Linked DNA regions of Homo sapiens. The protein of the gene in region 1 interacts with the protein of each later gene in a pairwise test. Each region holds a gene or a part of one and is shown on either strand. Other genes may lie near its edges.

What was found. Proteins that work in one complex are often made in the same cells at the same time.
Region 2: the proteins of MEOX2 (region 1) and SHFL interact in binary tests that used the Homo sapiens proteins (3 or more experiments, as listed by UniProt).

What each region holds. Positions count from the first base shown.
Region 1 is NC_000007.14:15,609,539-15,614,406, forward strand, and holds the end of MEOX2 (homeobox protein MOX-2), read right to left. Parts: intron 3,074-4,868; coding exon 2,849-3,073; 3' UTR 1,674-2,848; downstream 1-1,673. UniProt on the Homo sapiens protein: Mesodermal transcription factor that plays a key role in somitogenesis and somitogenesis and limb muscle differentiation. Required during limb development for normal appendicular muscle formation and for the normal regulation of myogenic genes.
Region 2 is NC_000019.10:10,080,504-10,089,812, reverse strand, and holds the start of SHFL (shiftless antiviral inhibitor of ribosomal frameshifting protein), read right to left. Parts: upstream 3,497-9,309; 5' UTR 3,386-3,496; coding exon 3,365-3,385; intron 2,885-3,364; coding exon 2,761-2,884; intron 2,563-2,760; coding exon 2,513-2,562; intron 703-2,512; coding exon of another isoform or gene 435-702; intron 335-434; coding exon of another isoform or gene 324-334; exon of another isoform or gene 163-323; intron 157-162; coding exon 118-156; intron 1-117.

The DNA.
Region 1 (4,868 bases):
AAACAAGTAGAGTTCTTTCAGATTTTTGGCACCTTTGGAGTGAATTAAACCCAGATAGTTCATGAGAATATCTTAATTTTCCTCAAAGAATTTTAATTCCAAAAGGATATTGGGGTATAATGTAGCTAACCTATGCATCAGTTTGAAGACAGGAGGATACTGAAATACTTTAAAAAGATGGCAAGTTCCACTAATAAAAATTACTCTGGCTTCCCTGTTTGTCAGTGTGTTGACAATGTGATAATGTGTCAGGTGTCTTATGCGGCAGGCAGATCATTTTAATTCATCATAAAGAAAGTGATGTCTCTTTTCAGTCAGCCATGTGGCCTTTCCTACCACTTTGTGTTCTCTGGATCAAATTTCATTTCAGGATTGCTTACAATTCTCTAATAAAGATATGGCCATGATACAAAAACCTCCCATTTCCCGAATGTTATATCTATTCGGAATCCCTTTTTCCTATTTCATTTTCTTACTACATTGGAATTCTTACGTCTATTTGGCTACAACCATTAGCTCTCCTTTTAGCTACTTCTAAGGGGTCCTTTTCTCTTATTTCTGGAAATTATTTTCCTGCCCAAATGAATTATCCTCCACTTTGTCCCTATTGAACTCAATTTGATTCATATCTTCCCACTTCACTAATTTGTCAAGATGTTTTGAATTTAAATCCTCTTCTACAGTAAGAAAGTCAGTCCACCCAAGTAGATGTCATCAGCACAAGCAGACTTTGTATTAATTCAGGTGATTAATGGAAAAGTGTCTGTTTCATGCCTGGGAGACCTCAATTCGAATGGTCTATTCTCAGTTAATTTTAAAATACTGACAACTACTGAGGTAAAATGTATTACATGAAAGGAAAATGTGATACAAAAAAATTATTTATTTCTGGGATACTCTCTATATATCACGCTAGATTAAGTTAAAATATATCAAATTAATTTTTGTCAGTCTGATCATTCTAAAGCAAGTGTAATCAATTAACTGATGGGTTTTTGGAAATTTTTACTGATTGTTTTTCTGTATTTGTTTCGGATTGAGGCAGGGGAGGAAGGCTGGCAATGTTTCCAAGCATTTCTGCTTAGAATATGAAACAAATGAAAAACAATGTGATAAAGCTATAAGTAGGACTAAGGCACCCCATGCGTGTGCAATCATGCATGATGCAAAATACATTATGTTAATAGCATCCTTTACTTCTTGCATTAGTCCCATTAGAACTGAGGACTCTGATTAGCTTCTTTAGCTTATATTTCACATCAGAGACTCTGCATATTCAGACTATAAAACCACTGTTGGATTAACTTACATATATCAGACATAACTTTAAAAATGTATGACTATTTTATTTTCCTCACTGTGGTGAATACTATTATTTAATACTTTTTTCCTACTTTTATCTGTGGCTTCATAAAACACACAAAAAAATCCATTCACTGTATTCTTCAAATTAGAGAAATAGCTTAATATATGCCCATTCTTAGGCGCCCTTTGATTACACAAGGATTTATTTTTTTCCTGCCATAATAAAAAAATTCAGAAATGAAAAAATGTAAATAATCCACTAATTATAATCATCTGGATTTGCACAAGTGCAGATAGATTTGAGACTTTGTTAATCATTGATATTGAAATCTATAAAAATTAAGAAAATTAATGTAGGGAGACCAAAGTTATTTACAAAGGATCATTTATTAAACACATTTTAAAAACAAAATACAAAGATAGTTGTTCTGCATGAATACATCACATATGAAAAAATAATGTGTTTTTACCGAATTTAATTTGAAGATATTCAGAATTTTGTTTTCTATCAACTTGAGCAACCAGTTTCGCTTTGCACCTTGTCTAACACTGTTGTCAATCAGGAAGAAATGTTTTCTTGTTAATTAAATCATATTCATACAGCTAATATTTTACAGAAATAAAATAAGACAATGTCTGTCATACAAAGCTCTTTCTGCAAGGTAACTGATTTGCCTATGATCCTAATTGTTTTAAGCTATAAGATAGGAAGAATTCAGGAGCTAGGTAAGTTTTATAATAACGTATTAGCAGCAGTTGATAGTAAATGCAACATAAGATTTGTTTTGTCTGTGGTACAAGAATATGTCCTATCAGACTCTACTGTATTTTTCTCTACTTGAACACAGGTAAGCACATACTGATTGTCTCTGGGATGACAAAATGTATAAAAAAGACAAGAAACTGGCTCTGGTTGTCATTGTGAGTGCCTATTTTCATCAGCTAATATGAATGCATTGCTAAATTAGTGAAGACAGGAAAATGACTTAAGGGTAATATATACAGAGTTAAAATACACTTTTTATCCACTTGAGTGAATTCAGGCACTGTGGCTGTTCAGGATAAAATGTTTCATGGTTTATTCTTGATAGCAATTTAATTTTCAGTGCAAGCAAAAGCAAATACCTGCCCACTGTAATACACATGATCTCACACATCTGGAATGTTCAATGCAAGTTCATCCTCGGCATCTTCACTCTGGAGACATCTTGAATAAAAAACCGTTCATAGTTTGCTCTTGATAGCAATTTAATTTTCAGTGCAAGCAAAAGCAAACACATACCTGCTCACTGCCATACGCACGACCAAACACATCTGGAATATTCAAAGCAAGTTCACCTTCTCCATCTTCACTGTGGAAGCTCTTTAATAAGTGGCACTTTGTGTAAACCCTCTATAAATCATGAAAAACAGATTCGAAATGCCTGGATTTAATAATATTAAACATCACTGCCATAGTCATCTCTCTGTGTAAACGATATTTGGGTAAGGCTTGCCATCACAACATTTCTTTCCTGAGAATGGAGCTGGTCCTCTGTTTATATCATAAGTGCGCATGCTCTGAGCTGTGGTCACTGTCGTGACTGTCTTCATTTGCTATAGAGTCCCCTGTTTGCTGGAGGGTGGCTGCACCAATTCCCGACAGCTCTGATGGGAGAAGTGTTCCCTTTTTCACATTCACCAGTTCCTTTTCCCGAGCCGCAGCTCCTTGCTGTCCACCCTTTACCCTCTTCCACTTCATCCGCCTGTTTTGGAACCAGACTTTCACCTTCAACCAAGAAAGGGAACAAACAAACAGAAAAAAAGAGATAATTAAAGTGACATTTTTTTCTCCTTAGTGTCATCAATGAAAAGAAGTTCCTCAAAGGCTTATACAAAGACACCATGAAGGAGTGAATAGAAAAATAAATCCACGTTGAATTTAATCAGGTTACATGTTCATGATAATAATTTTTAAAGTTTCAAAAGGTGCATACAAAGTACTATATTTGTATTTTACAGCATACAATGTAAAATATGGAACTAAACAAAAACTTTGTCATTTAAGGCACTCAAAGCACTTGCGTCTATAAAGAGCTTCTGTGAATTGGAGCTAACATAATATTTGTGTTGGTCAAAGCCCCCCACTCCTAAGTTCTTCTTTGATTTGACATCCAGCTGTCATTTCCTGAACCAATTTAAAACATGCTCCTGCAGCTACTGATTAAGCGGCATCTGAAAGGCCATACTCTGCCATCAGAAACTACTGCTGCTTTCACAAATCTTTATTTGACCATTCCACCTCACACTGAGCCTATCTTCTTTTGAACTCTTCTTTTTATTTTCTACCTTAATTCATTTATTTTACTTTGCAAATATTTGATCTAGTGATTTCTTTAAAATATGGTCACAATAAAAAATTCTCAACATTTGTTAAATGCTAACACCAAGATTATATACTACATCATTCACATCAGCTTTGTACAGGTATTTTCTTTTTAAAAGCTTCATTGAATTTGCCTAATACATTTAAATAAATATATATATTTAAATAACATATATGTATTAAAAACAAAAAAAACAGCAAACAGACATTAAAGGTCTATACATTATCAGAACTAGAATATAATTGGCATTATTGCATCTTGTTTAGGAGGAAATCTGTTTCTTTCACATTGCATTTCTCATAATTATAGCTTCTAGCAAGCAAAGTGTTCTTTTTACATTGTATTTCTCTGTCTACCCCACCTAAAAGTACCACAAGCCTGAATTTTGTGTGTCACCTCCAAGTCTTTCTTAAAAAAGAAAACAAATTTTTTTCATAACAAGTAATATTAAAACTATACTCTTTAATTTTATTTGTTTGTTAGGTTTATCAATGGAATGTTCCTAAGTGTAGGCTTTTTGCCACATCTTTGTTGATTCAAAAGACTCTATTTATTTATTTTTTATCATTGTATAATATTCCAAATTCTGTCAATATAGCACCATTTTTCTGTTCTACCATCCATGGATATTTGAATTCTTTTTTTTCTATATGTAATGCTGCTATAGACATTCTTGCATTTGTGTCCTGATAAGCATATCATGGGAACTTCCCTGGAGACTGCAGTTATATGGCTGCTGCTATCTATCTTCTCTCAATGTATGCTGTTTCTTTTTCCTTTTCTTAGAGTGTCTTTTGATGATTAGAAACTCTTAATATTAATTAATATGTTTAAATTTATCTATTGTTTCTTTTATGACTAGTGTTTTGTGTTTTCTTTTTCTAAAAAAATCTATTTTCTGAAGCCAGTAAGATATTCTATTGTGTCTTCTTCTAAGAGTTTTAAAGGTTGCCTTTTCCAACACAGTGGGACCCTGTCTCTACAAATAAATAGATAAAATAAAATAAAATAAAATAAAATAAAATAAAATAAAATAAAATAAAATAAAATAAAATTAGGTGGGTGGGATGGCATAGTGCCTGTAGTCCCAGCTTCTCAGGAGGCTAGGGTTGGAGGATTGCTTGAGCCCAAGTGGTTGAGGTTGCAGTCAGTGGTTGTTGCACCACTGCACTCCAGCCTGGGCAACAGAGCAAGATC
Region 2 (9,309 bases), on another chromosome or scaffold:
ACGAGTCCTCTTCCTGCCCCAGTGAATATCTCCCCTCCTGCCCTAATGGACATCCTTCTGTGCCTGCAGATGTCCCCCTCCCAACTCCCCCATCCCAAGCCCTAGCCACCAACTCACCTGAATGTCCCGGTCCTGCTTCATATCTTCTGGTGGATCCTGGGTGGAGATAGCAGGGGCAGAAACTGGGGATGGGGCTCAGGCCTCTTTCCACCCGTTTGCTGGGGGAGGCCCCCGGCCGCAATGAGTAGGGTGCCCCTAACTCGCCAGAAGCTCACAGAGCACCACTCACTTATTGAGAGCCAGGTGTGTGGCCTCAGTTGTCCTCATAGCAGCCCTGAGAGGTGGGCACACCTGTTACCTTATTGCTCAGATGGGGAAACTGAGGCTTAGGGGAGGGCTTGCCTGAGTGAGGCTAGCCTGACCCCCATACTCACTTCCTGCCTGCAAATGCCACATGCTTGTTGATGTTGTGACATATCGCCCCTTTGAGGCCACGTTGTGCTCGGCTAAGTGGGAGAGAGATGTGGGTTCAAATCCCAGCTGTATCACTTCCAGCTGTGGGGACTTGGGCAAGCCACTCCCTGCCCCCTGGGTTCCCACTGACAGGCATGTTAGAGCCCAGGCTCTGACTCCAGGTGGCCAGGGTTCAAATCGCAGCTGCCCCTGCTTGCTGGCAAGTGACTTCGGCCTCAGTTTCTTTGTCTGTGAAATGGGGATAAATAATAGGACCTGTCTCCTGGGGTCACTGCAGTGATGAAATAAATAAATTCCTGGAATCTTGCCATGTGGGAAGTACTCAATGAATGCTACTCTCTGCTAATATTATTATTATTATTATTATTATTATTATTATTATTATATTTTTGAGACGGAGTTTCGCTCTTGTCTCCCAGGCTAGAGTGCAATGGCACAATCTTGGCTGACTGCAACCTCTGCCTCCCAGGTTCAAGTGATTCTTCTGCCTTAGCCTGCCAAGTAGCTGGGATTACAAGCATGCACTGCCACGCCCAGCTAATTTTTTGTATTTTTAATAGAGAAGGGGTTTCACCGTGTTGGCCAGGCTAATCTCGAACTCCTGACCTCAAGTGATCTGCCCGCCTCAACCTCCCAAAGTGCTGGAATTACAGGCGTGAGCCACCACACCTGGCCCCTCTGCTATCATTTTTATCATACTTTTATATGTATAAATGTAGACTATGATACATGTTTTGTTATACTCTGGTTTTGTTTGTTTTTGTTTGTTTGAGACGGAGAATCGCTCTGTTGCCCAGGCTGGAGTGCAGTGGTGCGATCTCGGCTCACTGCAAGCTCCGCCTCCCGGGTTCACGCCATTCTCCTGCCTCAGCCTCCTGAGTAGCTGGGACTACAGGGGCCTGCCAGCACAACTGGCTAATTTTTTTTTTCGTATTTTTAGTATAGATGGGGTTTCACCATGTTAGCCAGGATGGTCTCGATCTCCTGACCTCATGATCCGCCCGCCTTGGCCTCCCAAAGTGCTGGGATTACAGGCGTGAGCCACCGCGCCCGGCATTTTTTTTTTTTTTTTTTTTTTGAGACAGAGTTTCGCTCTTGTTGCCCAGGCTGGAGTGCAATGGTGTGATCTCAGCTCACTGCAACCTCCGCCTCCTGGGTTCAAGTGATTCTCCTGCCTCAGCCTCCCGAGTAGCTGGGATTACAGGCATGCGCCACCATGCCCAGCTAATTTTGTATTTTTTAGTAGAGACGGGTTTCTCCATGTTGGTCAGGCTGGTCTCAAACTCCCGACCTCAGGTGATCCGCCCGCCTCGGCCTCCCAAAATGTTGGGATTGCAGGCGTGAGCCACCGCGCCTGGCCTATTATACTCTTTAACAGCCCTACACTAAGCCTTTCAGGCAGGCTAAATCCACAGCGTTCCCATCACCAAAGCTGTCAAAGAAGCAAAGTAGCCATGATGCACCTGTGCTTCAAAGCCATTCATTCATTCATTCATTCATTCATTCATTCATTCATTCAACACAAGGGTTCCATTCCCCTGCCTCTCTCTCCTCCCCAATCCTCTGCTCATCCTAGCCTTTCTAGAGACTGCCACTAACAACCCTTCCCCACCTCCCAGCCTTTGCTTATGCCATTCCCTCCCCCACCCCAAGACCCCTGCCTTTCTTTCCCTTTCCCCTCCCAGGGCTCACTCCTCCCCATCCTTTAAGACTTGGTACCTCCTCCTCCAGTAAGCCTTCTCTGACCTCTGCGCCCCCGCTATGATGGCAATAATCCTGGCTCCTTTCATTGCTTAGTTTCATGGCTCTCTCCCCCATTGAATACAATCAGCACATAATGAGCGCCTACTGTTTGCAGGCTCCCTGGCCGGACAAATGATGGAGAGGTGAAAAAGTGAGATTGGGTGATGAGTTATGGACCGACAATGCCTGGTCCCTCCTGTTTCAGAGGGGGGTCAGTCACCATGAACGGGTCGGGTCCCCCCTCTTGCTCTCCCTCCCGTGACCCGGTCCTTTGCGAGGGGAGGGGATAGGTTACCTGGGCATCCAGATCGTTACTTAGTTCTTGGCCATCTTTTTGCTTTACCCCTGCGGGGGAGAGTGCATATAAGGGAAGGGCCCTTGAAGGGTCTGTGGGAGTTCCAGGCCACCCAGAGCCGCGACGCAGAGCCTCCCCAAGGCTGGGACCTCCGGGGGAGGTGATCTCAACGCCTCTCCCTAGACCACGCCCCCTCGGCGCTCCCACGCGCGGTCCCCGCACCAGGCCCGGGACCCCTGCAGCCTCACCGTACACGATGGAGCGCCCCACTCCCGTGTGGTCGCTGCCGAATTTCCTCATCAGAGCCCCCGCCTTCTTGGAGGATACCTTCCCATGAAACTTCTCCCGGAGGCGCCGGACGCTCTTCTCCAGCTGGGATGGAGACAGGGGGGTTCCGGTGGGGGAAGGGGAAACGGGATCATCCCTCCCCCATCTCTAGGCACCGTTCTCCCGGCCCGAACTTGACCCTTGGTTTTGGCCTCCGCCGCCCCCCCCCCGCCTTTCATCCCTTTACGGCATTTCCTGGAAAAAGCCAAAGTCCCCACAGGGCGTTGGGGGAAGGCGCGGACTGGGGCGAGCGTCCCAGCCTAAGGTGTGGGGGGGCGGCCAGGTTATCTCTGGCCTCTGACCTTTGACCCTGCAGCCCCCGCTTTTCCTCGGGGAGGCCTCATTTCGCTCTGGGGAAACGTGGGAGTCACTTTCCTTTTCAAGGGGGGCGAGCGCCAGGCAGGGGTAAGGATCTGGGGTTCTAGGATGGGGGTCCCCAGGAACTGCGAAGCCCCCTCCGCGCCTCCCGGCCGCTCCTCGGGGTCTGTCGCGGCTGACCCCGGCCCAGCCGTAGCCATCGCTTACCTCCACACCTTCCTGAGACATGGTGGCGGCGGCGCAGTTCCCCGCGAGGGTCCGCACTGCGCGGCTCAGCCGCCCCCCTACCTGGGTGCGCCCGTCGGTCCAGCAGCCGCGCAGGGCAGGGGGCGGTGCCTCGGGGCCGGCTCCGCCCTTCCTCCCCGGCCCCTGTTTCGCTTTCGATTCAGGGGGGACCCGGCGCGCTGGCTCCGCCCTGGCTCCGCCTCTGCTCTTGCGCCCCAAACCCAGGCGGGCGCCCCGGGTCTGCACCCTGCGGCGGAGCGCGCAGACCTCGGACGGGGGAGGCGGCGCGGCCTCTGCAGTCGGTCACATGTCCCCACGCTGCGCGGGGTCCGCGTCTTCACGTCCCTCGTGGGGGCGGGGCCGCATCAGAAGGCCGCGGCGAGGCCCCGCGCCCCCCCACCCAGCGCGCGCTCCCCCAGTTCATCACCCTCCTCTCTGTTCTCCCTCCTTCCCCGGGAATCTGGCGCTCATGAGGACCTGGGCCCTTTTCCTGCCCTGAGTCTCTGTCCTAGCTACGGTCACCTCTCTCAACCTCAGTTTACCCCTCTGTGAAATGGGGAGAATCCTGGTGTCTACACCATGGAGTGGAGTATGTGCCAAGATTCCCGAGTGGATCGCGTAATAGCGCCTGGCTTGCAGTAGGCGTTCAACTAGTCACTGGGCCACCTGCTGTGTGCCCTTGATAGGGGCAGGCAGTGTGTGTGTGGTTGGGGGGAGCGGTGCTTGAGAAAAATACAGATTCTTGGTCTCTAGTAGCCCGGTAGAATCCGGCTGTCTCAGGGATCCAGGGAATCTGCAATGGTTAAGAACCCCGTGGGACGGACAATTCTAACCCAGTACAGGGCACATCAGGGAGCCCTTAGGTGGTGGGGCTCTGGCCCAGCCTGGGGACACAGAGATGGCAACTTCATTGGAGGAGGGGATGCTTTGTAGAGTCACTGAAATTGGAGGTCTTAGCTAGGGGAGGAATAGAGTGGGGAGATGAGGCAGCCGTGCAGAGCCCCCAAAGCAAGACTAAGTCTGGGGTTTTTGGGCAATGGCTTCTCAAGCCCAGCACTCTTGACACTTTGGGCGGCCTAGTTCTTTGTGTGGGGGACTGTCCTGTGTATTGGGGGACATTTAACACCATCCCTGGCCTCCACCCACTAGATGCCAGTGGTTCCCTACTCTCCCTGTTGTGACTACCAAAAACGTCTCCAGAGACTGCCGGATACTCTCTGAGGAGCAAAATAGCATTGTGTTCAACGACTCCAAATTTTTTTCTCCATTGCACACCCCTATAGGTAAAAGTGTTAAAGTTACACCCCCAGATGGATATTTATTCATTTATTTATTTTTTGAGACAAGATCTTGCTCTGTTGCCCAGGCTGGAGTGCAGTGGTTTGATGGTGGCTCACTGCAGCCTCTAACTCCTGGGCTCAAACGATCCTCCTGCCTCAGCCTGCTAAGTAGCTGGGACTACTGGCATATGCCACTATGCCTGGTTAATTTTCTATTTTTTTTGTAGAGACGGGGTCTCACTATGTTGCCCAGGCTGGTCTCAAACTCCTGGCCTCAAAGATGGATATTATTTATAAATTATATACAAATACAATTATATCAATATATTCTGTTAACTGTTATATAAAATATTGATAGATAAATGGAGCTGGGCATGATGGTTCACACCTGTAATGCTAGCACTTTGGGAGGTCAAGGTGGGAGAATCACTGGAGGTCAGGAGTTCAAAACCAGCCTGGGCAACATAGCAAGACCTTGTCTTTAAAAAAAGAAAAAAGAAAAGGAAAAAGTTATTTTTAAAAGACTAAAAAACAAACAATAAAACCCCCCAAATCTAGATATTCTAAAGTTTTTCCAGTTGAACCCCAAAGCTTTGTTTATAGGGTGTATGTACTCCACTCTGGAGACTACTGTATTTGCAAACTACAAGCAGTTCATGATTCCTTGTGGCTGAATGGTGGAATCCTAGGCAGGATGGGGGCTGGAAACTGCACAGAAGACCTGGGATTTTATCCTGAGGGAAGTGGCGAGGTTTGGAGTGGATCGCCTGTCATAGTTGCCAGTTACTAATCTATTTGCCCAGTGCAGAGGGAGGTCATAGCTATGTCCCATTCACTGGCCGAGATGGGCACTGAGTGGGCAGGAAACAGGTAAGAGTCTGAGCTAGCCCTGACATAAATCAGATCTGGTAGGTTTTTTGTTTTTTGATTTTTTTTTTTAGCGCAGAATATGCAGACCAAAGGTCTGTTAGGTTATAATCACCGTGGCAACCACATAGAGCGTGTACTCTGTTCCCAATGCTGTTCCAGGCACTGTGGACATGACAGCAAACAAAACAAAGATCCCTGCCCTCGTAGAGCTAGCATTTTTTTAAATTTGTTTTAAGAGACGGGGTCTCACTCTGTCACCCAGGCTGGCGTGCAGTGGCACAATCATAGCTCCGCTGCAGCCTCAACCTCCTGAGCTCAAGCAATCCTCCGGCCTTGGCCTTCTGAGTAGCTGGGACTGCAGGTATGTGCCACCACATCCGGCTAATTTGTTTGTTATTTTGTTGTTGTTTTGTTTGGGTTTTGTTTTTGTTTTGAGACAGAGTCTTGCTCTGTCACCCAGGTTGCAGTGCAGTGGCACGATCTCGGCTCGCTGCAACCTCTGCCTCCCGGGTTCAGGCAATTCTCCTGCCTCAGCCTCCCGAGTAGTTGGGACTACATGCATGTGCCACCACTCCCGGCTAATTTTTATACTTTTTTGTAGAGCTGGGGGCGGGGGGGTCTCACTATGTTGCCCAGGCTGGTCTTGAACCCCTGGGCTTAAGTGATCCTGTTGCCTTGGCCTCCCAAAATGCTGGGATTTCAGGTGTGAGTCACTGCACCTGGTCCATCCTTATGATTTCATGTGGTCTTTGTAGCTTAGGACTTGAGAAATGGCTTTGCTGCTGGGCTGTTCTGGCTCAGGGCCTCTCAGAAGGTTGCAGTTAAGGAGTTGGTCAGGGCTTCAGTCATCTGAAGGTTTGACGGGGGCTGGCGAATCTGCTTCCAAGGTGGCTCACTCTCAGGGCATGCAGATGGGTGCTATGATTGGCGGGATGCCTCGATTCCTCCCAGTATACTTGAGTGGCATGAGTGTACTCCCAGCATGGGAGCTGGCCTCCCGAGCACCTTCCAAGAGCTGAGAGCCAGGTGGAAGTTGTATCTTTTTATGATCTAGCCTGAAAGTCCCACATCACTTCAGCCACATTATGTACATTAAAAGCTCATTGACTGGGCACAGTGGCTCATGCCTGTAATCTCGGCACTTGGGAAGCCAAGGCAGGAGGATCACTTGAGGCCAGGATTTCGAGGCCATGCTGGGCAACATAGTGAGACCCCATCAGCCAGGCGCGGTGGCTCACTCTTGTAACCCCAGCACTTTACGAGACCAAAGTAGGTGGATCACCTGAGGTCAGGAATTCGAGACCAGCCTGGCTAACATGGAAACCTCATCTCTACTAAAAATACAAAAATTAGCTGGGCGTGGTGGCGGGTACCTGTAATCCCAGCTATTTGGGAGGCTGAGGCAGGAAAATCACTTGAACCCAGGAGGCAGAGGTTGCAGTGAGCCAAGATTATGCCACTGCACTCCAGCCTGGGTGACAGAGCAAGACTCTGTCTCAAAACCAAAACGAAACAAAACAAAACAAAACAAAAAAAGCAGCAAATCTTGACCTGGAACTGGACCCTTGGAGGCTTAAGCTGGGCGACTGTGTTCAATTATGGAGGAAGGCCGGGTGCAGTGGCTCACACCTGTAATCCCAGCACTTTGGGAGGCCCAGGAGGGCAGATCACTTGAGGCCAAGAGTTCGAAACCAGCCTGGCCAACATGGCAAAATCCTGTCTACTAAAAATACAAAAAATAGCCAGGCATGGTGGTGTGTGCCTGTAGTCCCAGCTACTCGGGAGGCTGAGGTGGGGGAATCACTTGAACCCGGGAGGCAGAGGTTGCCGTGAGCCGAGATCGCACAACTACACTCCAGCCTGGGCAATAGAGTGAGACTCCATCTCAAAAAAAAAAAAAAATTGCTGGGCACGGTGGCTCACGCCTGTAATCCCAGCACCTTGGGAGGCTGAGAGCCCAAGGTGGGGATCACCTGAGGTCGGGAGTTCCAGACCAGCCTGACCAACATGGAGAAACCCTGTCTCTACTAAAAATACAAAATTAGCCAGGCATGGTGGCGCATGCCTGTAATCCTAGCTACTCGGGAGGCTGAGGCAGGAGAATTGCTTGAACCCAGGAGGCGGAGGTTGCGGTGAGCCGAGATCGTGCCATTGTACTCCAGCCTGGGCAACAAGAGCAAAACTCCATCTCAAAAAAAAAAAAAAAAAGAAAAGAAAAAAAATATTGTGGAGGAGATGGAGACCATTGGAGCATGTGCATGCTTTTCACAATCTAGTCAATTTCCCACTCCAGTTGAGTCAAATGAAAAATTGATCGGGAATGCTCAGAGCTGGAGAAGCTGTAGGGAAATGAGAAATCTCCCAAATCATTAGAGACAGCATCCGTTGGTGAAACCTTTTGGGAAGGACACCATGGAAAAATCTACTACTAAACTATTAAGCATGCTGGATTAATCATGTCTCTCATTTTCTGTTGCTGTCTTCTTCTTCTCTTTGTCCTTCTCCTTCCTCCTCCTCCTTCCTCCTCCTCCCTCCTCCTCCTTCTCTTCCTCCTCCTCCTCCTCTTATTCTTCTTCCTTTTTTTTGTTTTTGAGATGGAGTCTCGCTCTGTCGCCCAGGCTGGAGTGCAGTGGTGCGATCTCGGCTCACTGCAAGATCCGCCTCCCGGGTTCATGCCATTCTCCTGCCTCAGCCTCCCAAGTAGCTGGAACTACAGGCGCCCACCACCACGCCCAGTTAATTTTTTGTATTTTTAGTAGAGACGGGGTTTCACCGTGTTAACCAGGATGGTCTTGATCTCCTGACCTCATGATCTGCCTGCCTCAGCCTCCCAAAGTGCTGGGATTACAAGCGTGAGCTACTGCGCCTGGCCTTTTTTTTTTTTTTTTTTTTTTTGAGACAGAGTCTTGCTCTGCCACCCAGACTGGAGTGCCGTGTCATCATCATAGCTCACTGCAGCCTTGAATTCCTGGGCTCGAGCGATCCTCCTGCCTCAGCCTCCCAAGTAGCTGTGACGATAGGTGTGCACCATCATGTCAGCTAATTTTATTATTTGTGTAGAGACGGGGTCTCACTATGTTGCCTGGGCTGATCTTGACCTCCTGGGCTCAAGTGATCCTCCCTCCTCGGCCCCCCAAAGCCCTGAGATTACAGGCATGAGCCACTGCACCTGGTTTGAATTTTTCTTGCAACAAGCATCTAATCTATCATTTTGTAGTGAGAAAAAAAAATACCCAATAAGATAAATCCAATTAATTTTCTTTTCTTTTTTCTTTTTTTCTTTTTTTAAGACAGTGTCTTGCTCTGTCGCCCAGGCTGGAGTGCAATGGCGTGCTCTCTGCTCACTGCAACCTCGACCTCCCGGGTTCAAGCGATTCTCCTGGCTTAGCCCCTTGTGAAGCTGGGATTACAGGCACGTGCTGCCACGCCCAGCTAATATTTTGTATCTTTAGTAGAGACAGAGTTTCACCATGTTGGCCAGGTTGGTCTCGAACTCCTGACCTCGTGATCTGCCCACCTCAGCCTCCCAAAGTGCCGGGATTACAGGTATGAGCCATCACGCCCAGCCAATCCAATTAATTTTTAAAAATAACATGTATGAAACCCTGGACACTATCTTTGACAATGATGCCTAACAGGTGAGAAGTAATTTGGGATTTTATAATTTGAGTAGTTCTCAGTAAATGGAACATCCTTTGTAGCACAGAAATCTGTTGTTCGACTTTTGTGAAATCAGTTTCATACATTTTTCCAGGAATACATTATGTGCAAAAGTTG